Homo sapiens: one gene and its partners. The protein of the gene in region 3 interacts with the protein of the main gene of each other region in a biochemical or structural test. Each region holds a gene or a part of one and is shown on either strand. Other genes may lie near its edges. The genes, in order: CDK8, FHL1, SMAD2, NFIA, ANP32B, BPTF and PPM1A.

Evidence for each region.
Region 1: of the proteins of SMAD2 (region 3) and CDK8, one has a biochemical effect on the other in vitro, tested with the Homo sapiens proteins (one study listed by BioGRID).
Region 2: the proteins of SMAD2 (region 3) and FHL1 form a complex in vitro, tested with the Homo sapiens proteins (one study listed by BioGRID).
Region 4: the proteins of SMAD2 (region 3) and NFIA form a complex in vitro, tested with the Homo sapiens proteins (one study listed by BioGRID).
Region 5: the proteins of SMAD2 (region 3) and ANP32B form a complex in vitro, tested with the Homo sapiens proteins (one large-scale study listed by BioGRID).
Region 6: the proteins of SMAD2 (region 3) and BPTF form a complex in vitro, tested with the Homo sapiens proteins (one study listed by BioGRID).
Region 7: the proteins of SMAD2 (region 3) and PPM1A form a complex in vitro, tested with the Homo sapiens proteins (one study listed by IntAct).

What each region holds. Positions count from the first base shown.
Region 1 is NC_000013.11:26,400,629-26,404,128, forward strand, and holds part of CDK8 (cyclin-dependent kinase 8), read left to right. Parts: intron 1-640; coding exon 641-719; intron 720-837; coding exon 838-996; intron 997-3,327; coding exon 3,328-3,453; 3' UTR 3,454-3,500.
Region 2 is NC_000023.11:136,209,451-136,211,854, forward strand, and holds the end of FHL1 (four and a half LIM domains protein 1), read left to right. Parts: intron 1-420; coding exon 421-575; 3' UTR 576-1,904; downstream 1,905-2,404.
Region 3 is NC_000018.10:47,847,160-47,850,659, reverse strand, and holds part of SMAD2 (mothers against decapentaplegic homolog 2), read left to right. Parts: intron 1-1,972; coding exon 1,973-2,185; intron 2,186-3,500. UniProt on the Homo sapiens protein: Receptor-regulated SMAD (R-SMAD) that is an intracellular signal transducer and transcriptional modulator activated by TGF-beta (transforming growth factor) and activin type 1 receptor kinases.
Region 4 is NC_000001.11:61,085,561-61,089,060, forward strand, and holds part of NFIA (nuclear factor 1 A-type), read left to right. Parts: intron 1-2,588; coding exon 2,589-3,120; intron 3,121-3,500.
Region 5 is NC_000009.12:98,003,841-98,007,340, reverse strand, and holds part of ANP32B (acidic leucine-rich nuclear phosphoprotein 32 family member B), read right to left. Parts: intron 2,378-3,500; coding exon 2,188-2,377; intron 1-2,187. UniProt on the Homo sapiens protein: Multifunctional protein that is involved in the regulation of many processes including cell proliferation, apoptosis, cell cycle progression or transcription.
Region 6 is NC_000017.11:67,940,503-67,944,002, forward strand, and holds part of BPTF (nucleosome-remodeling factor subunit BPTF), read left to right. Parts: coding exon 1-154; intron 155-3,500. UniProt on the Homo sapiens protein: Regulatory subunit of the ATP-dependent NURF-1 and NURF-5 ISWI chromatin remodeling complexes, which form ordered nucleosome arrays on chromatin and facilitate access to DNA during DNA-templated processes such as DNA replication, transcription, and repair.
Region 7 is NC_000014.9:60,255,721-60,259,220, reverse strand, and holds part of PPM1A (protein phosphatase 1A), read right to left. Parts: intron 2,398-3,500; exon of another isoform or gene 2,355-2,397; intron 258-2,354; exon of another isoform or gene 1-257. UniProt on the Homo sapiens protein: Enzyme with a broad specificity. Negatively regulates TGF-beta signaling through dephosphorylating SMAD2 and SMAD3, resulting in their dissociation from SMAD4, nuclear export of the SMADs and termination of the TGF-beta-mediated signaling.

The DNA of each region.
Region 1 (3,500 bases), on a different chromosome or scaffold from region 3:
TTGCTCCTCCTCTTATATGGGAACCCAAGGAAATCCTTTATGACAAGCAAAAATGAGCTTTGCTGATTAAAGTGTCATTTAGGGGCTTTCCAGTTAAGAGGCATTCCTGTTCATCTCTTGCTTTATGAAATGCTGATCACATTAGTTTCAGTAGTGATCCAGCTATTCAGTGACAGGTTGGTTATGCGTGCTGTAGCTCCTTACTGTCTGCAGTTACAGTTTCATGTTCCAAAATTGCAAATATTCCCAAATGTGTTCCCTATACCATCTTTTGTTTTGTTAATAAATGTAGTAGGAAGGGTAAAACAAAAATTACCTTTGAATGGTGACACATACTTCAGCTAGAATCTATATTTGGTCTGTATTAATAGAAGAGTAATGCTGGGATAAAAGAAGAAAGCTGAATCATACTCGATGATTATTGATCATTTGTATACAGCTCAAGCCCTCAAGTAGCCTGCTGTAATATTACTAGTTACAAAGAAAAGATTCGTTTTGTCACAGTTACATGAAAGGTGCTTATATTTGCAAATATGGAGACAAAGTTCATCTTAAAAGATTAAAATGAGAATCTCCTAAATGAAGCATTTGGAATATTGATTAGTATACCAGAAATGGTTTTTCTTTTTCTTATGATCAGCGTTTTTGCCGGTTGTCAAATCCCTTACCCAAAACGAGAATTTTTAACGGAAGAAGAACCTGATGACAAAGGAGACAAAGTAAGTATTAAAGTACTGTTAGCAGCTTCTTGTTTCGTGAATGCCTCCATAACATTTTCCATTGTGGGTATATTTTGTTCTCCCTCTGAGCTGAACTTTTTCTGTTTAACCAATTGAGAAGAACCAGCAGCAGCAGCAGGGCAATAACCACACTAATGGAACTGGCCACCCAGGGAATCAAGACAGCAGTCACACACAGGGACCCCCGTTGAAGAAAGTGAGAGTTGTTCCTCCTACCACTACCTCAGGTGGACTTATCATGACCTCAGACTATCAGGTATTCCAAGTTTATTTTGTATTGACTGCATGTCAGTGTTTACATATGGGTTTATGATCGTGGGAAAATGTGATTTAATTGAGAAATACTGACGTCTGTATACCCAGGGAAATACATTAACATGAAATGTTACTGGCATGGAAAAGTACTGACAGTGGTATGGTAGCAAGGGTTTAGACTTTTGAACCAGACTTGGAATGATCAAATACAAATTATGCCATTTATTAACTGTGTGACCTTGGACAAGTAGGATAATATCTCCTGGCGTTTTTTCATCTGTAAAATGAAACTAGTAAAACCTAACTTGCAGCTGTTGTCAGATTAGACATGAAGTGGCTTGACACCTAGCTTATGGTAGGAGCTTGATAGCTATTGTTTTGGAACAATGTTTCACAGTGATTAAGAACATAGGCTTTCAGATCCCAGTCTGGCCACTTACTTCTCTGTATCCTTGAGTAAGTGATTCAGATGTTCTCAGTTTCCATTTGTAGACTGGATAATGATCAATGTGAAGCTGTAGTAAGGATTAAATGAGATAACTCTGGGAGGTTAAGTGTTGCAGCCATTTCAGGAAACTGAGGCTTGTAGAGGTTAAATAACTTTCACATGGATCCCCAGCAAGCTGTAGATGCAGGACTCATATTTGATCTGACCACAAAGGCTGTTATGTTGCCTGCTTAGGGATCCTATCATGGCATTGTCAGTTACGTTGTGGAAAGACCCTCTTTGAAAATTGTATACCACCTCCTTTTCTCTTCTGCTTATTCTAACCATATTCCCAACTACACAAGGGTTCAGTGTGGGAAGGATACTGAAAATCTGACCAATTAGAATTATTTACACACAAAAAAAAAGAGAGAGAGAAAGAGATGTTATTAAACTGATAAGGTCCCGAGTGCTCGTTACTGTACTTTCAGAATTAGGTATTAACTCTTTCTTTTGGTTAGGGGAGAAGTCCAGCCCATCACACCATGGAAATCACTGTTGTGTGAGTAGTAATTCTCTTCCAGTTAGCTAAACAAGGACACCAAGGGCAGACAGCTGTGGGAGTTGTTGGTTCCAGTATCTTTTTCTTCCTTTCCGGATGGGAAGAGTGCATCTCTCTTGGCCCACAAATGTGTTTGCACACTAAGGTGATGGCATCCTTAGAAGGAAGCAGAGCAGTGCTCTGACCTTCGCTTCTGGAACCGAGAAAATGATGCCATGCTGCTTTGTTGGTGTGATTGTTGTTGGTTTTTTGTGGATGAATTTTAAAATAGTATTTGTGACTATCATTTCATGTGTCCACTCTTTTTAAAAATGTTACCTTTTCTAGGATTGGCAGAATTTGGAATTATATGTCTTATTAAATATGCTTTGAAAGACAGAAGTAATAAGTTCTGGTTAATCTTTTATAGTGTTTGTCTTGGGAGCAAATAGTATGAGAGAGAGGTGTGAGAATGGGAATAATAATCTAACATATCAAAATTAGAGAACCCCAAACCATCACATTCTTTCTCTTTGTGCCATTTTAGAATTGAGAATACCGTCCTTCTTACTGTGGTTATATTTTTACTTTTGTATATAAACTTGTAGCAGAAAATAAGATTCAGTAGCTTAAAGGGGCCAGGCACTGTGGCTCATGCCCGTAATCCCAGTGGTTTAGAAGGCTGAGGGGAAGGATCACTTGAGGCCTGGAGTTTGAAATCAACCTGGGCAACATAGCAAGACTCTGTTCCTTCAAAAAAAATTTTTAAAAATTAGCTGAGCATGGAGGTGCATGCCTATAATCCTAGCAATGATTATACCATTACACTCCAGCCTGGATGATAGAGTGACACCCTGTCTCAAAAGAAAAAAAAAATAGTTTAAAGGGCATAAAAATGTATTAATGCCAAAGAAATGGATTCTGTGATACCTTCTCCTATCATACTCACTTTTACTCTTCAGTCATGTGTGTGGGGGTGAGTTTTCTACTGAAGAAAGCATGTAAATAAGCTTTGAATTTTTTATGTATACATCATTAAGTTTCTGGGTAAACATCTCAAGCAAATTTACCAAGTAGATACAAAACAGCATAAAAAGGGGTTACTCCTGTAGAAAAAAATGTATTTGCACAGCATAGTAATAAGCCTAGGCTTAATATTATTTACTAGCAATATTTCTGACCTTCCTCAAGAGAAGAGGATGTTAAAATATTTGGGGTTTTTGTCTTTAATTATAAAGTTAGTACATAGCACAAAACCTATACATCCTTTCTTCCTTGAAACATAATGACACTTCAGTCACATATTGGGATTGAGCTTCCCCTAGAAGCACCTGAATCACACTTTTCCCTCATCTCCTTTCCAGCGTTCCAATCCACATGCTGCCTATCCCAACCCTGGACCAAGCACATCACAGCCGCAGAGCAGCATGGGATACTCAGCTACCTCCCAGCAGCCTCCACAGTACTCACATCAGACACATCGGTACTGAGCTGCATCGGAATCTTGTCCATGCACTGTTGCGAATGCTGCAGGGCT
Region 2 (2,404 bases), on a different chromosome or scaffold from region 3:
ACACCCCACGAACAGCCCAAGTTTGCCTCCTGGTGGCCACTTTGATGTCATGGCCCTGACCTAAATCAAAGAAACTGGTTATGCTGGGAGGTCGGTGCGCGTCACAGGGCAATAGCGTGGTGGCATGGGAACGTGGGGTCTTTACATCAGGGAAGCCCTTGGCCGGGCTTCAGCATCTTCTCAGGTCCTTGAGAGCCACAGCAGGGTTGCGGCGGCATGGGGGACAATGGCGGCGTGGGGGACTGTGCACGATGGAGTGGAGGAGGGGGTCTGGGAGCCAGGCAGACCTGGCTCTTGCGTGCTTGTCGGTCTGTGAGTGGGGCAGGTCGTCATTTTATCTCTCTGAATCGTGGTTTCCTCACCTGTATTCATTCAGCTGTTTCTCTTGTTTTCTTTTCTTTTCTTTTTTTTTCCCCCCAGGGTTTGGTAAAGGCTCCAGTGTGGTGGCCTATGAAGGACAATCCTGGCACGACTACTGCTTCCACTGCAAAAAATGCTCCGTGAATCTGGCCAACAAGCGCTTTGTTTTCCACCAGGAGCAAGTGTATTGTCCCGACTGTGCCAAAAAGCTGTAAACTGACAGGGGCTCCTGTCCTGTAAAATGGCATTTGAATCTCGTTCTTTGTGTCCTTACTTTCTGCCCTATACCATCAATAGGGGAAGAGTGGTCCTTCCCTTCTTTAAAGTTCTCCTTCCGTCTTTTCTCCCATTTTACAGTATTACTCAAATAAGGGCACACAGTGATCATATTAGCATTTAGCAAAAAGCAACCCTGCAGCAAAGTGAATTTCTGTCCGGCTGCAATTTAAAAATGAAAACTTAGGTAGATTGACTCTTCTGCATGTTTCTCATAGAGCAGAAAAGTGCTAATCATTTAGCCACTTAGTGATGTAAGCAAGAAGCATAGGAGATAAAACCCCCACTGAGATGCCTCTCATGCCTCAGCTGGGACCCACCGTGTAGACACACGACATGCAAGAGTTGCAGCGGCTGCTCCAACTCACTGCTCACCCTCTTCTGTGAGCAGGAAAAGAACCCTACTGACATGCATGGTTTAACTTCCTCATCAGAACTCTGCCCTTCCTTCTGTTCTTTTGTGCTTTCAAATAACTAACACGAACTTCCAGAAAATTAACATTTGAACTTAGCTGTAATTCTAAACTGACCTTTCCCCGTACTAACGTTTGGTTTCCCCGTGTGGCATGTTTTCTGAGCGTTCCTACTTTAAAGCATGGAACATGCAGGTGATTTGGGAAGTGTAGAAAGACCTGAGAAAACGAGCCTGTTTCAGAGGAACATCGTCACAACGAATACTTCTGGAAGCTTAACAAAACTAACCCTGCTGTCCTTTTTATTGTTTTTAATTAATATTTTTGTTTTAATTGATAGCAAAATAGTTTATGGGTTTGGAAACTTGCATGAAAATATTTTAGCCCCCTCAGATGTTCCTGCAGTGCTGAAATTCATCCTACGGAAGTAACCGCAAAACTCTAGAGGGGGAGTTGAGCAGGCGCCAGGGCTGTCATCAACATGGATATGACATTTCACAACAGTGACTAGTTGAATCCCTTGTAACGTAGTAGTTGTCTGCTCTTTGTCCATGTGTTAATGAGGACTGCAAAGTCCCTTCTGTTGTGATTCCTAGGACTTTTCCTCAAGAGGAAATCTGGATTTCCACCTACCGCTTACCTGAAATGCAGGATCACCTACTTACTGTATTCTACATTATTATATGACATAGTATAATGAGACAATATCAAAAGTAAACATGTAATGACAATACATACTAACATTCTTGTAGGAGTGGTTAGAGAAGCTGATGCCTCATTTCTACATTCTGTCATTAGCTATTATCATCTAACGTTTCAGTGTATCCTTACAGAAATAAAGCAGCATATGAATAACCTGCCTCCTGTCTTTTCATTCTGCCTGGTGGAATCGCTATAAGGTGATACTCCTAATCCAGAAACCTAAATGACTTATTTTCCTTCCAGGATATACTCACTTTAGTGCAGGCGCACAGAACATAGGAATTATAAACAAACCTGTAAAAACCACACTTGATTGATAAATAAATAATTAAAAACAAACAGAAACCACTCTGACCTAAAATAGTATTTCCCAGATTTTCACATCCCTGAAAAAGAAAGAAAACGATGAATTGGTTTGATTTGGCCAGGGGATTAGGGAGGGAATCCCTGATGAAGCATGGCACTGAGAAGCCATCTTGGTCCCTGTTTGTTGGGTGCTTCCTCGGTGTGCCTTTCCCCTTGTGCCCTCTGGAGCCTGGGGTCCAGGTTGAACGTGACCATCTCAACTGCGGCTGCCTCCACCTGCCAGCTGAATGACACCCTCGCTCCTTCTTGTGGATGTGGCTCACTAAGGAAGCTGCCCATTTGGGCCC
Region 3 (3,500 bases):
AATATATATTATACATAATATATATAATATATATATAATATATAATATATATTATACATAATATATATAATATATATATAATATATAATATATATTATACATAATATATATTATATATATAACATATATTATACATAATATATATTATATATATAACATATATTATACATAATATATAATATATAATATATATTATGTATAATATATAATATATATTATACATAATATATATAATATATTATATATATTATACATAATATATAATATATATTATATAATATATATAATATATATTATACATATTATGTATAATATATATAACATATATTATACATAATATGTATATAACATACATAATATATATTATACATAATATATATAATATATAATATATATTATACATAATATATATAATATATAATATATAATATATATTATACATATATATAATAATATATATATACTATATATAATATATATATGAGAGTGTGCACATATATGTACAAATGTGTATGTGTATGGTCCCTTCATAACCATGAGTTCAGCATCTGCAGATTCAACCAACTGCAGATTGAAAATAATCGGGAAAAAATGAAAATAACAATACGACAGTAAAAACTAATACAAATTGTATTTATTTTTATTTATTTTTTGAGACAGAGTCTTGCTCTGTCGCCCAGGCTAGAGTGCAGTGGCGCAATCTCGGCTCACTGCAACCTCTGCCTCCTGGGTTCAAGCAATTCTCTGCCTCAGCCTCCTGAGTAGCTGGGACTACAGGTGCATGCCACCACACCCAGCTAATTTTTGTATTTTTAGTAGAGATGGGGTTTCACTATGTTGCCCAGGCTGGTCTCAAACTCCTGGCCTCAAACGAATCACCCACCTTGACCTCCTAAAGTGCTGGGATTACAGGCGTGAGCCATCGTGCTGGGCCCAAATTTTAAAATACAGTATAACAAATATTTGTATAGCATTTATATTATTAGGTATTATAAGTAATCTAGAGATTATTTAAAGTATACAGGATGACGTGAATTTAAGTTACATGGAAATACTACACCCTTTTATGTCAGGGACTTGAACATCTAAGGGTTTTTAGTTAGGGGGAGCCGGTCCTAGAACCAATCCCCTGTAAATGCCAAGGGATGACTATATATATATATATATATATACATACATTTCTGTATTACTATTATTATTTTTGCCCTCATTTTACCCTATTTCACAATTTCTCTTCGGTTGTTACATGTTTGGAATTTATTCTACAAAATTGTGAGGTTTTTTTCTTTTGCAGTATTCCTTATGATATGTTTTAGTCAAACTGCAGAAGCTAAATATATAGTTTTCCAGTGAAATAAGTAGTCTTTTGACTCTATGGTCTGTTTCTACTTGCATGATCTTTGTGTGTTACTGCTTTCTGGTTCTTATGTATGAGTGGGTTTTCTCTTTTTGTAGCTAGGGTATCTCACCAAGAGTTTGATGTTAAAATAGACAAATGTCAAAAATATGTCATATTTTGTATCCTTTTATTATTACTGTTTTTCTTTGTGTGGCTTTTGACTCATTAATCTTTGCTCTGGCTTTATCTTACCCCACTTTAGCTTTTTTATGTGCTTTAGAAATGCACCAAGTATGGCAAGTTGACTGACTTTGCCTATGATTGTTTTGTATTTGAACAGGAGCTAGACTAAAACTACTGGTAAAACAAAGAATCCAACATAAAGTGATTTAATGACATGGGAGAAATTTGAAAAAATCTGGTATGATCTATGAAACTGGAGTTTTGTGTGAAAAATACTGAAAATCTGGTATCATCTGTGGAAACCGATACAGATACTATGTCTACTTCCTGAGCTTTTGCCAGTGCAGGCTGGCATAGAGCATGTAAAGATGATTATATTAAATCTATTTTTGGCTTGAATTGTTCACGCATTTCTTCCTTTTATTATTTTTTTATTTTTTTCTTTTTCAGATTTACAGCCAGTTACTTACTCAGAACCTGCATTTTGGTGTTCGATAGCATATTATGAATTAAATCAGAGGGTTGGAGAAACCTTCCATGCATCACAGCCCTCACTCACTGTAGATGGCTTTACAGACCCATCAAATTCAGAGAGGTTCTGCTTAGGTTTACTCTCCAATGTTAACCGAAATGCCACGGTAGAAATGACAAGAAGGCATATAGGTATGTTTTATTTTCCTTGTTGTGAAAAATAAATGCTGTATACTCATAATGTAGGCATTGCATGGTGTGCCACATCAAGAGCTTGTGTGCAGTAAAACCAGCTTTCTCTCTGGTGGTTTAAGTGCCGACACATTTAAGTGCACAGGCTTCACTGCTTCTAATAGATCCTGGTGATGCTTCAGCTGCAAACTCTTCAACTTTTATTTGGCACCCTTGGTACTGGAAAGTTCTTCAATAAATATGTGTTAAGATAAGTTTAATTTGCTGAGTCTCTACCAGTCATAAAATTGCCATGTTCAGATTTGGGGGTTAATACTTTTTTATAAATCATGTTTTTTTGTTTTGTTTTGTTTTTGTTTTTTTTCAGTTTCTTTATATAGCTCCCAGGTTTTTTCCCCCTTTGGTGAGTTTATATATTAAATGAAATCTGCTTGCTGTTCATCTGAAATGAGATATCTAAAACAAGAACTGCATTTAATATAGTTCAAAATATAATTCAGGGACATCTCAAAATGTGGTCTGGGGACTTCTGGTAGTCCCAGAAACCCTTTCAGCTAGTTTGTGAGGTCAAAGCTATTTTCATAGTAGTACTGAGATGCTGTTTGCCATTTCTACTCTCATACTCTCATGACTGTACAGTGGAGTATTCCAGAGCCTACATGCATATGATTTTGCAAGAGATGAAATGTAGATTTGATAATGAGACTCCAATTCTGTTACACTAGACATGAATGTTGAAATGTTGCCACTCTATTTTTTTTTTTTTTTTTTTTTGCTTTGGAAATATAGTTGTTTTTCATAGACAAAAATGGTGAAATGTTGCCACTCTATTTTTTTTTTTTTTGCTTTGGAAATACAGTTGTTTTTTATAAACATTGTTAATATGTAATGGATTTGATTTTTAAATGAATTTTTTAAATCTCAGTTTTTATATCTAATATGGTCATTTTCCATAATATTCACATAAACAAAAGCTCTTTGGGGTCCTCAGTATTTCCTTAACGATGAAGTGAAAAAGTGTGAGAACCATTCATAATTGAACATCATTCTCATCACCTTAAAGTAACTTCTTTTAACAGTAGTTTGCTTCTGTTTTTTTTCTAATTAACCATTACCTCCTGTGAGAAGTAATGCTGGTTATCAAAGTGTGATTTTGATACTGCAAAATGATAGTGACTAGAAGATCTATTACTTGGTTCCAAGTGGAAGTTCTCAAATCTTGCTTGATGTATAAATTTGGATAATCTTATTAAGATACCCAGTGTCGCTGTAGGTGCTTTAACTAAAATAGTTTTTTGTTTTTGTGACTTAATTG
Region 4 (3,500 bases), on a different chromosome or scaffold from region 3:
CACACTACTTTTTTTTTTTAACTAATCATTTATGCTATTCCTGGACATTTCTTGCAAGCTAATGATACTCTTTAGTTTTGATATTCTGGAATATTTTAAATCATGACTTGAGAAAGATACATTAGAAAAAATCAATACTTTAATTGTGCATATGAGTAAAGTTATACAAAATATTGTGGACTTTTACTGGCAGGTTCTTAACCTTTGGGGAGTAATACATTGTAAATACTTTTGATGCAAAATTGGGGACTTAAGTTATTCTTAATGACTAATTGACATAGTTGTTCTTGTTTAAGGATTTTTATGATGAGATATATGGGCATTTGGTTGGCAGGTAAACAGAATCCTGTTGGACACGAATGCATGCATGCAGTTTGCAGTTTTTTGAAAAGCATATTGGGAGTATCTACAGACACTTAAAATGCCATATTAGAATGTTTATTTTAAATGCTTATTATCATTAATCAAACTTTTAAATAAGATAACATTTTAACATAGATATGAATCGTTTGGAGCTAAGTTATACTTTGCATTATAAAATGGGGATGAAACTTTAAAATGAAGTCCTCCTTTTGGTGAAAGCTCACTTGGTAGTTTAAGGTAGACTCCAGGAGTTTTTTGCATAATACAACAGAGTCTTGGTCCCTAGCATGTCTTGTATATATAAGAAAATCAGTCAATGTGAAGTTCTGTTTCAAACCTAAAATTTATGTATTTTAGATCATTTCAAGGATGAGCTCAGAATTTAGTAACGTTTAGATGCTTTGTGGTTTGGCGTATACCTTTGCAGATAAACTGTGACTTGCCCCCCATGCCTGTCACCTAAAGTATGAGAATAAGAAATATTCTCAAACATCAGAAATTTTAAAAATGTTAATGGTTTATGGCAAGAATAACAATTCCTGTATTTTTTTCTATTCTCTCTCTACTTAAAGAATGCACACGTGTTACAAAAGCTGACTACTTCTCTTTTGGATTCTTTTATTGAAAAAGAGCAGTTTTGAAAGCTAAACTTGAAACATAGAACCTGAAATTTGTGCAGAGAGGAAAAAAGTCAGTTATTGAAGTAATTTATTATGTATTAATATATACTTACTTTTAAAAGCTCAGTCATATAGAGTGTTTAAATGATTGATTATAATTTGCTAAATTTTTAAACAACACGACTATTAAATATTTTACCTTATCAGTTCACATTTGAACATTTAAAAATTTAGTAATTGTGTTAATAATAATATTCTGGACATTACTGCTACCTGTGCCTTGAAAGTATATATTTAGTTAGATATAACAAACTGAAAAAGAATGCATTTTATAATATTTGTCTGTCCTACACCATTTAGCAAAAAAGCCATCGAATCTTTCTTTGGTTTCTAATCCTCATTTATTTGAAGGTAATCTATGTTTTGGAGAGGGGGTTATGTGGCAGAGAGAAGTTATGTAACAGTGTGGATTAGTTAATCAAAAGTTAGACGTACTCCGAAAGCTTTGTGGAGGTTACTGCTTAATTTTTTAAAAAATATATTTATATTTCCTAAGAAAATGTCATGTATAAGGATCAAACATTTTAAGCAAAACAGAAAGAAACATTTAAATATTTGAAACTCAATTTTTTTTTCAATTTTAAGAGGCATCTATGAGGGTTTTCCCGGCATCTTGTAAATATTGAAAATACCAGGTTCTGATTCCCTATGAGAAAAATCCTGAAATAGTATTTGCAAAAATTAAATAATCTATTTTTTAGGTATGATTATTACTGAAAGCACTTCACAATCATATTAGTAAATTAAATGTATTCATGTATGCTTTTCTTTGTTTTTTTTTCCTCTTTCTTCCCCCTTTTTGTTTCATTCCCATAGTATTAGCAATTATGTCTTGGGCATAGATCTTTTATTTTAGCCTAATAAATATCAAATTCAATCCTTCTTTTGTATATGAACCTCCCAAATTTGTCCTAGTTTTTGACTAAAAAAATTATATGTAGTTATAATATTTAAAAGGGGAATTTAGACACTAGCAAAATGAGTAAGAAACATATCAGAATCTACATGCAATATTTTTAGGGGGAAAGCCTTTGTTTTCATTGATTGTAGAGATGATTTTTTGCTCCTAGACTTCCATAAACATTGACTGGCATCTAAATGTTTAGGATTTGCCAATCTGGCGGCTGGGCCCTGGCTGTACTACAAGTGGTGAGGTCAAGGCTGGGACAAAATTAGATATGCCTTCCTTGAAATAGGGTTAAGATTATACATTGTTATAAGCATTTAGATAAACTTCACTTACTATCTAAAGGATGGGGAGCTAGGCCCGACAGTAGTAGCTGGTGTACCCTGGTGAACATATTAAAACAGTTTTTTAATTTTCAGCAGTTTTTTTATTTCCGATCATAAGAAATGATACTGATAGTTTTCTCTCCCACCTTCCCAGACTTCCCATAGGATCCTGTGTATGATTTTGGTAACAGAATGCTCTAATCAAATTTCAAGTGAAATGAGGAATTTCTTTCTTAAGGTGACCCGCTGAAGAAAAGTTGTTTTCTTTTGTTTTCATTCTACTTATATTTTTCTTTTTGTTCATTTTCCTAGGATGAATTTCATCCTTTCATCGAAGCACTTCTGCCCCACGTCCGAGCCTTTGCCTACACATGGTTCAACCTGCAGGCCCGAAAACGAAAATACTTCAAAAAACATGAAAAGCGTATGTCAAAAGAAGAAGAGAGAGCCGTGAAGGATGAATTGCTAAGTGAAAAACCAGAGGTCAAGCAGAAGTGGGCATCTCGACTTCTGGCAAAGTTGCGGAAAGATATCCGACCCGAATATCGAGAGGATTTTGTTCTTACAGTTACAGGGAAAAAACCTCCATGTTGTGTTCTTTCCAACCCAGACCAGAAAGGCAAGATGCGAAGAATTGACTGCCTCCGCCAGGCAGATAAAGTCTGGAGGTTGGACCTTGTTATGGTGATTTTGTTTAAAGGTATTCCGCTGGAAAGTACTGATGGCGAGCGCCTTGTAAAGTCCCCACAATGCTCTAATCCAGGGCTCTGTGTCCAACCCCATCACATAGGGGTTTCTGTTAAGGAACTCGATTTATATTTGGCATACTTTGTGCATGCAGCAGGTAAGTGCGATGGTGAGAATTCCTCCCACTTTCTTGTGTGTGTTTCTTTCCTGATGGCCTCCGCGTTATGCCGGATTCTTCCTGAGCTCCCCAAGTTGCAGGCCACGTACATGAAGCCAGTGTGGTTTCAAAGATTGAGAGAGGTGCCACCTTCATTCAGGTGAAAAAGCATAGCTTTGAGCGAATTCTCACTAAGTTCAGCTCTTTTGGTAAGTAGTGTTTTCAGAGGCGTTGGTAATCAGATATGTGATATGTTTAAATCACATTTTTTGATGAGGGGATGAGAGAAGCCTCGTGAAAACCCTTTTAATAAAGAGTATATTTTAACTGACAAATGATCTAGTTTAAAAGCATTTATTTTGGTATTGAGGCAATATTTT
Region 5 (3,500 bases), on a different chromosome or scaffold from region 3:
TCAAAGAGGAACATGTGCCACCTTTTGAACTGCAGCTTAACTGCAGCCTCTCCTAAAAGTTCATGACAAATGTCCTTAGCAGCAGGCAGGATCAACTCTTCAATAGTAAAGGGCTTCTTACTTTAGCAATGCAGTTAGTTAAGGGCTTCTTAGCTTTAGCAATGCAGTTAGCCACTAAGAATGAGATGTTCTCAGTGCAGTCACATTTGATGAAGTGGGAGCTTTCAATAATTGCCTCTGTTTTTCACGTTCATGTTTATTTCTTTTGAAAAACTCCAAAGGCTTGTCTTTTAAACGCAGGGTGCTTGGTCTCCAAGTGGTGAAGCAGTTTTTTTTTTGTTTGTTTGTTTTTTGAGATGGAGTCTTGCTCTATCGCCCAGGCTAAAGCACAGCGGCACAATCTCGGCTCACTGCAACCTCCGCCTCCCAGGTTCAAGCAATTCTCATGCCTCAGCCTCCCGAGAAGCTGGGACTAAAGGTGTGCACCACCATGCCTGGTTAATTTTTGTATTTTTGCAGAGCCAGGGTTTCCCCATGTTGGCCAGGCTGGTCTTGAACTCCTGACCTCAGGTGATCTACCTCGGCCTCTGTAAGTGCTGGGATTACAGGCATGAGCCACTGTGCCCAGCCAGTGAAGTGGTTTTGAAGGTTTCATGGCTTTGTTGGATAGCTTGTTGCCACATATTATACAAAGTGGGCTTGGAGAATGTGAATCATCTGTTGCAATGAACCTGTAATTTAAGTAGCACTCTTGGTATTTTCTTTTCAATGAAGCTTTCTTTTCATTGGCAGTCTTGTCTTCTGCTGTCTCATTATTGGGTCTTTCCCCCTTCTCAAAGAAGCTCTCCAGCGACGTTTTTTACTCATGTTGGATAGTTAGCTTGTGGGCCTAACAAAACTGTGACTGAGACAAATACGCAGTGCGGGAAAGAGGTGTGGATGGAAGTGGTAAATAAAAAAATGGGCAGGCCATGCACTGACTAAAAAAAGCATCAGATTCTGACTTAAAGCCTGTCACCAGATACAGCTGTACAACTGAAGTACACCAACTCACTTGCCACTATAAAGCCTGCCACCAGATGCAGCTTGTCACTTGCCACTCACAGATAGGGGTTGATGAGTCTGCAAGCAATTGATTTATTATCATCTCTGTAAAGTCAAACCTCTTTGCTAATGTTAATCTGTATTTGCAGCCACTCCCCAGTGCTAGCATCACCACCTCAGCTCTAGCATCACCACCTCAGCTCCACCTCGGATCATCAGGCATTAGATTCTTCTAAGGAGCACACAACCTAGCCCCCTCACATGTGCAGTTCACAATAGGATTCTCGTTCCTATGAGAATCTAATACCACCATTGATCTGACAGGAGGTGGAGCCCAGACAGTAATGTGAGCAATGGGGAGTGGCTGTAAATACAGATGAGGCTTCCTCACTGCTCATGCGGCCTGGTTTCTAACAGGTCATGGAGTAGTACCAGTCTGTGGCCTGTGGGTTGAAGACCCCTGAAGTAGGAAGACTTAAGAACAGCAGAGTGGCAAGCCTGTAAGAGCAAGCGGTTTACAGTTTAAACGCACAGCATCCTAACTTAGCTTGTAGACTTCAGGAAATGCTTCCCGGGCCAGGTTCAGTGTCTCATCCCTGTAATCCCACCACTTGGGGAGGCTGAGGTGGGAGGATCCCTTGAGGCCAGGTGCTTATGAAATAGGCCTTAGCTATAAATTTAATGGAATGCCTACATTCAAAAAATACACGCGTGCGCACGCACACAAACACACACTATTTTCCTCAATAGTAAGAACATCTAGTAGCTTTTTTTTTTGAGACACCCTGTCTGTCTTCTGAGACGGAGTGCAGTGGGGAACAATCATGGCTCACTGTAGCCTCAAACTCCTAGGTTCAAGTGATCCTCCCACCTCGGCCTCCAGTCTTCTGAGTAGCTAAGACTCCAGGTGTGCGCCACCACACCTGGCTAATTTTTTTTTTTTCTATTTTCTGTAGAAACAAGGTATTGCCATGTTGCCCAGGCTAGTCTCAAACTCCTGGGCTCAAGCAATGCCCCCTGCCTCGGCCACCCAAAGTGCTGGGATTACGGTTGTGTGCCACTGCGCCCGGCCAACATCCAATAGCTTTTATCAGAGGCTTTGAAAGGCAGACATCAGGTTCACCAGATGCTGAGCCTACTCACCTTCGTCCTCCTCCTCTTCATCCACACCATCCACCTCGGCATCTGAGTCAGGTGCTTCCTGGTCCTCTCGGTCATAGCCATCCAAGTAGGTAAGCTGGGGCAGGAGCTTGAAGACACTCTCTCGGTAGTCATTCAGGTTGGTAACCTCACAGTTAAAGAGGTCCAGGCTTTTCAGACATTCTAACTTTTTCTGAAGAAAAGGATCAAAAACCACAACTCCTAAACCAAAGGAATATAAGTAACAAATCCATCTCTTGAAGAGGTAAAATTCTAGGCTCTATATTCAATTTCCACTACCCACTCAGCCTCATATATAGAAAAATACATCAAGTCTTTTGCAACCTTTATATTAGGTTACTAGACTTTAGTCCCTCTCTTCCTTTATCTACTCTCCCAGAGAACTATGTGTTTTTCTGGCAGCATAGTAGTCTAAAGAAATATAAATTGAAAATAATTTTTATTAAATCCAGGTATTTTCACAGTATGAGACAATCAAACAGTTTAATAAATTTAGCTGAAACAAATGTTAACATTTGAGTAATCAAATGGCCATTAAGAACTTCCTGGGTATCAAGCGGTCTTTAATGTTCTAGGGTGGCAGTATAGGGAAAAATTCAGAGATTTATAACACAATCTTAGGGTGCTTACAATTTTAGTTAGGGCACAGACATGAAACACTAGAGGATGAAATATAATAAAATATAAAGTGTGGCAATGCAGCTACTTTCAGGGAAGACAGGAGTCAATATGGGCTGAGGAAAAAGCAGAGGGGCGCAGAGTTGAAACTTCGGAAATACGGAGAAACATTGCACTCTTCTTTTTTAGTATTTGGGGAAAAGACTGACATGTTACCAGACTTTTATGATGTAAAGTTCTTCTGATTTTATTTACCATACCTTGAAATTTTGTTGCAATACCTCATTTCTTTGGAACCATCAGTTTCATCTATCTAAAAACAGTTAAGCTATAAAAAGTTGGCCCAAGTCAAGTTTTCTGAGTAGTCAAAGTGCACTGGAAAATGTCTATGTATTTACTCAGATCTTCATTTGTTATTATATCAGTGTACTAGTATTTCAATCCCAGGTCTATTAAGTTTTGATTAAGGGTAAATTAAGAGATTGAGAGGGCAGAGGTACTACACTATAGGCAAGTCAGGAGACAGCAACAGGAAGTGACAGCAGACCCTTGTAGATAGAAGAGGGAGCAGCCTATGAAAGGCAAATCCAATGTGAAGTAGCACATAGCCTGGTGCCTTTCAGAATAGGGGCAATAACTACATATATCTGGATAGCTTCATAAACACAACCTTTAAT
Region 6 (3,500 bases), on a different chromosome or scaffold from region 3:
CCCTAACACGGTTTCCTCAACACCTGGGCAGAAAAGCTTAACTTCAGCAACGTCCACTTCAAATATACAGTCTTCAGCCTCACAACCCCCTCGCCCCCAACAAGGACAAGTGAAGCTCACCATGGCTCAACTTACTCAGTTAACACAGGGCCACGTAAGTAACATAAGCTTTATTTTAACTTTAGAGGTGATCTTATTTATTCTTGCGGTAAGTTTAAAAACATGAACTTATTTTGATACGTTTTTAAATGTGCTGATTTGAAGAAATGGTTGCTTCCTGGAGTCAAGCAGAAATACCTCTTAGACAGGATATAATAAACCCCAACTACTAGAGTAATCTTTAGACAGTGAGCTAAAACAGTGAGACAGATAACCCTTTTAAACACCAAAATTTTATTAGTTGGCTAATCTCCATGAGACAAATAAAATTTGAGTACATTAAGCTGCTTCCTTGCAAGACTCGATATTGTTAGCAAGTCTTCTAATATTGATTAATAAATTGAATGCAGCTCCCATCAAAATCCCAAGAGGTTTTGTTTTTAGTGAAACTTCACAAGCTGATACTGAAAGTTTATATGGAGGTACAAAGTATTAAGAATATCTGTACCTTTGAAGAACAGGATTATTTGCCCTATATATGATAACTTGATATCAAAACTTAGTATAGGCTGGGCATGGTGGCTTGCGCCTGTAATCCCAGCACTTTGGGAGGCCAGGGCGGGTGGATTGCTTGAGGTCAGGAGTCTGAGACCAGCCTGACCAACATGGTGAAATTCCATCTCTGCTAAAAGTACAAACAAATTAGCTGGGCGTGGTGGCATGCGCTTGTAATCACAGCTACTCAGGAGGCTGAGGAAGGAGAATTGCTTGAACCTGGGAGGCGGAGGTTGTAGTGAGCTGAGATTGCACCACTGCATTCCAGCCTGGGTGACAAAGCAAGACTTCATCTAAAAAAAACCAAAAAACTTAGTATATAATACTTCACTAATTAATATAGTGAGGTACAGACATAAGGAGAGGCAGATAGACCAACAGAACAGTAGAGAGTGCAGAACATGAACCCCATGTATGTGGACACTTGTTATATGACAAAGGTGACATTGCAGATCATTGAGGAAGAGATGACTTTTCAGTAAATGGTGCCAGGACAATTGAATATACATGGGAAACTGTGAAATTGGACCATTATTACCTCACTCTACATAAACTCAATTCCAGGAGGATGAAAGTCCTAACTGTGAAAGGTAAAACTATAATACCTTTAGAAGATAGAAGAATATCTTCATAGCTTTCCTAAACAGATAGAAAATGCTAACCATAAATGAAAAGATTTATAAATTCAACTACTTTAAAAATAAGAGTAAGAACCTCTGTTCATCAAACTCACTACAGAGAGAGTGAAGAAAATGAGAAAAGAACCAACCAAGGACTATTACATATCCAGAATATATAAAGAATTACTACAAATCAAGAAAGAAAAAAATCCAGATAGATCAATAGGAAAAAAGACAAACAGGCAAGGTGCGGTGGCTCACACCTGTAATCCCAGCACTTTGGGGGGCCAAGGTTTTGGGAGGCCAAGCCAGGTGGATCACTTGAGGTCAGGAGTTTCAGACCAGCCTGGCCAACATGGGGAAACCCCGTTTCTACTAAAAATACAAAAATTAGTCAGGCGTGGTGGTGTACGCCTGTAATCCCAGCTGCTTGGGAGGCTGAGGCAGGAGAATTGCTTGAACCCAAGAAGCAGAGGTTGCAGCGAGCCAAGATATACCACTGCACTCCAACCTAGGCAACAGACTCCGTCTCAAAAAAAAGAAAAACAAAAAAAAAAGGACAAACCAACATTATGAGGAAAGAAGAAATCTAAATGTCCCAAATTCCAAAAAACTGCTGAACTTTATTAATAATGAGAGAAGTACATATTAAAACCATATGCTTAAGAGATTGGTACAAATTTAAATGTCCAACAAAACCAAGAGTTAGCAAAGACATAGAGCAGAAAGAATTCTCATGCACAGCTGGTGGGCCTATCAGTCGGTTCAGCCATTTTGGAAACTTCCTGGACATGGTCTGGTAAAGTCAAAGCTGTGTATGCCCAAGGTCCCAGTATACCTTCTAGGTATATCCCTAGAGAAGTTGTTGGCCATGTGAGCACCAGAATACATGGCATAAATATTGGTAGCAGCATTGTTCATAAGAATCAAAAACTAAGAACAACTCAGGTGTCTATCAAAATCAGTTAGCTAAGTAAATTGTAGTATATTCCTACAGCAATAAAAATGAATAGACTTCAGCCACACAGAACTATGCAGATGATTCTCACAAATATATAATGGTAAGCTAAAGAAGCAAGTAGCTGCCAAAAAAAATACATGTTATAATTTCATTTGTATAAGATTCAGAAATAGGCAAAACTAAGCTATTTTGTGTAGGGATACAGGGCTGCTGCATTGCCTGCCTGGAGGGGGCACTATTCCCATTGTATTCTTTGTGAATATTGCTCCTGAGTTTGTGAACCTCAGTGGCCTTATATATACCTAAGATACATACCGAAGTAGTAATGAAATACAGTGTTATCATCAAAGTGAGGATAGTGCTTACCTCTAGGGGAGAGGGAGGGAATTGAAATCCGGGTGAGTCATATGGGGACTTCTAGGACACTGGCAATGGTGACCACAGTGGCGGTTTTATAGATGTTTACTTTATAATTTTTAAATTATACTTGGTGTTTTGTGCATTTTGTGCATAAAAAATGTATTTTAGAAAAGCAAGAGTAAATAAGTTTTGAGGGATTCACATGTATATGGAGCTTACTTAGTACATGGACTTTGCGCCATCAGTTTTGGTCATTGGGAGTTTAGGGGATGGTTTTTACTTTTGCTTTCCAGTTCTCCAGCATGTTCCTGGTATTCAGGGTTTCTAGTTGAATTACAGTTCTGGACAGAAGAGAGAGCGCCTAGAGAATTTTAAATTTCTGGACCCCTTTTTGGTAACTGCTCAGACCTTAGTGATCCTCCTTACTTGGTGTTTGCATTACATATCTAAAACCCTAAGCTTTTTACAGTTTAGCACACACACACCCCATAGGTAATTTGGCACGTATTGAAAGACAAAATTCAGGAGATCTAGGTTCCTTCTTTTATCTCACCTTTAAGTTGGCCAGGGTACTTGACCTTTCTAACCTGAGTTTCTTAGTTGGGAATCAGAAGAATATTTTCTCTGCCTACCCCATAAAGTCACAAGTCCATTGTGAGAATCAAATGAGGCAGTATCTATGAAGATGCTTTTGAAATTGTAAAATATGAATATAAGATTATTTAAAATCAGAATTTTGTGGGGACTTTAGTTATTCAATACCTTTATTTTATAGATTGGGAAACTTGGATCTGGAGGAACAGTGTTGCTTGTGGACAGATAACTGGCTGACCATTGGGGGAGCTTGAACTGGAACTCTGGATTGTTGATGTTTTTCCTACTAAGCAACATAAATATTCTTACTT
Region 7 (3,500 bases), on a different chromosome or scaffold from region 3:
CAGACTTCAGTTGATATAATCTAACATTTTTCAAAATAGAGTCACTCACTGAGTTCATGAATTGTGACATGCAATTTTTTTGTGTATGTAGGGAGATAGATGCTGAGGAAAGAGAGAAAAAAACCTTTTCAAGTGAAAGTTCTATTTAATAGCTTAAAAAATGTGTAACCACCTACCTCCTATACTTGAATAGCCACACCTCAAATCGCATGGCCCAAAATGAACTTCTCAACTACTGCCACTTCTTAGTTCCACATCTGAGGAAACAGATCTATCCTTAGTCATAAGCTCATAGAATCCTCTATTTCCCTTATCGCAGCATTTATCTGGTGAATTATCTCTCACTTTAGATTTTAAGATCCAGGAGGAAAGAGATTATGTCTTTTTTGTTCATATTTAACACATGACACTTGACGAATACATGAGACAGATGAATAACAGCCATTATACCTTGGCTTCTCCCTTGTCAACACTGATTATCTTCTATGCAGGAAAAAGTATTTTCAGAGAAGTTGGCCGGCCAACAAACTGTATCCTACCATTTTCCATCTATAGAATACATGGTTGTCTTTTATCCCTACAAAAATATCATAGTGGATTTCTAAAAAGAAAATATTGGACCCTAAAAGAAATCTACGGCTTAATCAAAACTTGATTTTCAGATTACTGTTCATCAATGACTTTAAAAAGTTTATCAACATCATTAGATACACACTCCCATTATTGAAAAATGGCACATAAGGAAGGGAACAAAAGAGAAAAAACATAGTTATGACTAAAAGCCCACACATTTTCTTTCCCTGAGCTATTTATTTATTAATCTGCTCATTCATTCAACATTCATGGATGGATGAACTTTTTCTAAAGTTTTCTCTACACAATAAGCCAAGTATAAAGTAATTCAGACACAAACGAATTTCTGGGAGCTGGGAAATCCATTGTCAATGCATTCAATGTAGTCTAGCCAAAAATATCTCTAACTTAATCTTGGAGTTTTACTACATAAAACAAGTAATACTATTTACACTTATAGAGCTACTTATTTTACTGACTGTAGCAAACCAGAAAAGATCACACTAGATGGCTGACTAGTTGAAACACCTGCTTACTGTATCAAGAAGCATTTACGCAGAAAGAGAAAATGAAGATGACAGATATGGACTAACAAAGGGTAAGCTGTGGGTTGGTCACAAAACAAAAACTGCCACTTCTAAGATTGGCCCCTTGGCAACCAAAACAGTCTTACAGGCTGTCAGAAAGGATAATACCCTACTGCTTTACAAAAAGTGAAAATTTTATTTCCTATCTACTTAACATTCTGAGGTATGATGGCATACTGCAAAGATGTTTTTCTAAAGCCTGGTAAGTTATGAGATTCTGTTTGGAAAAACAAAAACAAAAAAATATATAGCCATCCCTTATCTTTTATCATTCACATTTTCATTTCTGAATTTTGGTAATAAAGGTAAGCACACTTCATCTTTATACACACAGTACCAAATTATGATGTGATCCTACTAGTCATGATAAAGAAAAAGGTAGTACTAAGAATCCAAGACATTCAAAGTTGGTAATGAATTATATTCTTATTCTTTAAAACAGTACAATAGACAATTCTTGAATAACATATTCTTTAAAATAATTAAGCCACCTAAAGTATAACTAAAAAAAGAATGTTTACTTACATCCCTCCCTGAGGTGGTCATATTATAGATGAATACAAAACACCAGCCTAAATTTAAAGTGATTATACATGACCCATGCTTTCTCATAGTCTGCTGTATTTCCAGCTCACATTCAATTTTCTGTCATGTGTTCATCAGAAAATGAACAGGGAGACTATAAAAATTTAACAGTCATATATTGATAATCTCTTTAAATGAATGAAACAAGACCTGTTTTTAAGGAATTTATTTTCAATAAACATTGAAGTTACCATTTATAGTATAATCTCTATTGTAAACTCAGCTAGCTTGTGTTTAAGACTATCTTCTCAGACTCACTGAGAATTTCATTTGAATAAAGGATCTGTGAAATAATTTATATCAGTGGGTTGCAAAGTAGTAAACATGAATAAAATTTTAAGCCATAAGAAAAAAGTGTGTATGGCTTGTGGAACTAATTGTATTATGGCCATATCTTATGCTTTTTTAATATTAAAAAATGTAATAGCTCTTCTTGGGGAAAATTTCTAAAGGGAGCTAACATATGATAATATACTTTTCAAACTTAGTATACACTGCCACCTCAAATCCCAACTCAATCACAAGATTCACTCTCTGGATACAATGGAACAACAGTCATACCCTTCATGTACAAAGATTTTGACCCATCACAATGGCCAAGAGACTTACTTTCCGCAGTAGCAATGAAACCGCATGGATCAACAAATTATTTCTGCAAAGTCCAAGAACATGTATTAGGCTTCTGTTAATAGCTCTGAAACTCTTGGCAAATAACTGCTCTGTTTCAAATTTCCTCATCTGTTAAGATATAGGTAGTAACAGTATCTAGCTCATAGGGCTGCTATGAAGATTTAATGAGATAATAATTGAAAATCTATTGTAATAGTCCCTGGCACATAAGAGCTCAATAATGTTAGTTATCATTGTTAGTTGCTAACGTCAAGGCTAGGAAAACATAAGAGGAACACAAAGTATCAAGAGGTCTCATTAGCATTGTTCTCTAACAAATGGATCTAAGCCGGCACTGACTGACTATATGAAATTATCCATTTAAAAAGCCAATAAATTTTACTATGTATTTTCTTTTTTCTTCTTCTTTTTTTTTAGACGATGTCTTGCTCTGTTGCCAGGCTAGAATGCAGTGATGCAATCTTGGCTCACTGCAACCTGTGCCTCCCGGGTTCAAGCAATTCCCCTGCTCAGCCTCCTGGGTAGCTGGGACTACAGGCGGGTGGCCACCATGCCCGTGCCACCACGCCTGGCTAATTTTTTGTATTTTAGTAGAGACAAAGTTTCACCATGTTGGCCAGGATGGTCTCCATCTCCTGACCTTGTGATTCACCTGCCTCAGCCTCCCAAAGTGCTGGGATTACAGGCATAAGCCACCACACCTGGCTGGTATTTTCTAAACACTGAAAATAGTCTAGCATTTTGATAAGCTTGAAAGTCTAGCTTAGAGGTTTATTTGAACACAGAGTATGCATATTATTAGATACTTGTTGGGTTCAAATTAAATCAGCTGATAGTTATCTCTCTTCTTTAACACATCATCTAATTCCTGTGATTCCACAATTCCTCTCTGGTTAAAAGGACACAAAGTTCATGATAATATTTGCAAATGTAAAATACTCTGAAAAGAGATATGTGATTATAAATGTCCTGTTAACCCTCAAAGCCAAAATGTAGGAAGTTAAAATGAAGCTTGTAGGTCCAGGATCAGTCAACCTAGTCTTCTACATCAATATAAGAACACTGCCACACTTCAGATTTGTATAATCTTCACACTTAAATATCCAGGTTCAGAAAAAATAACAT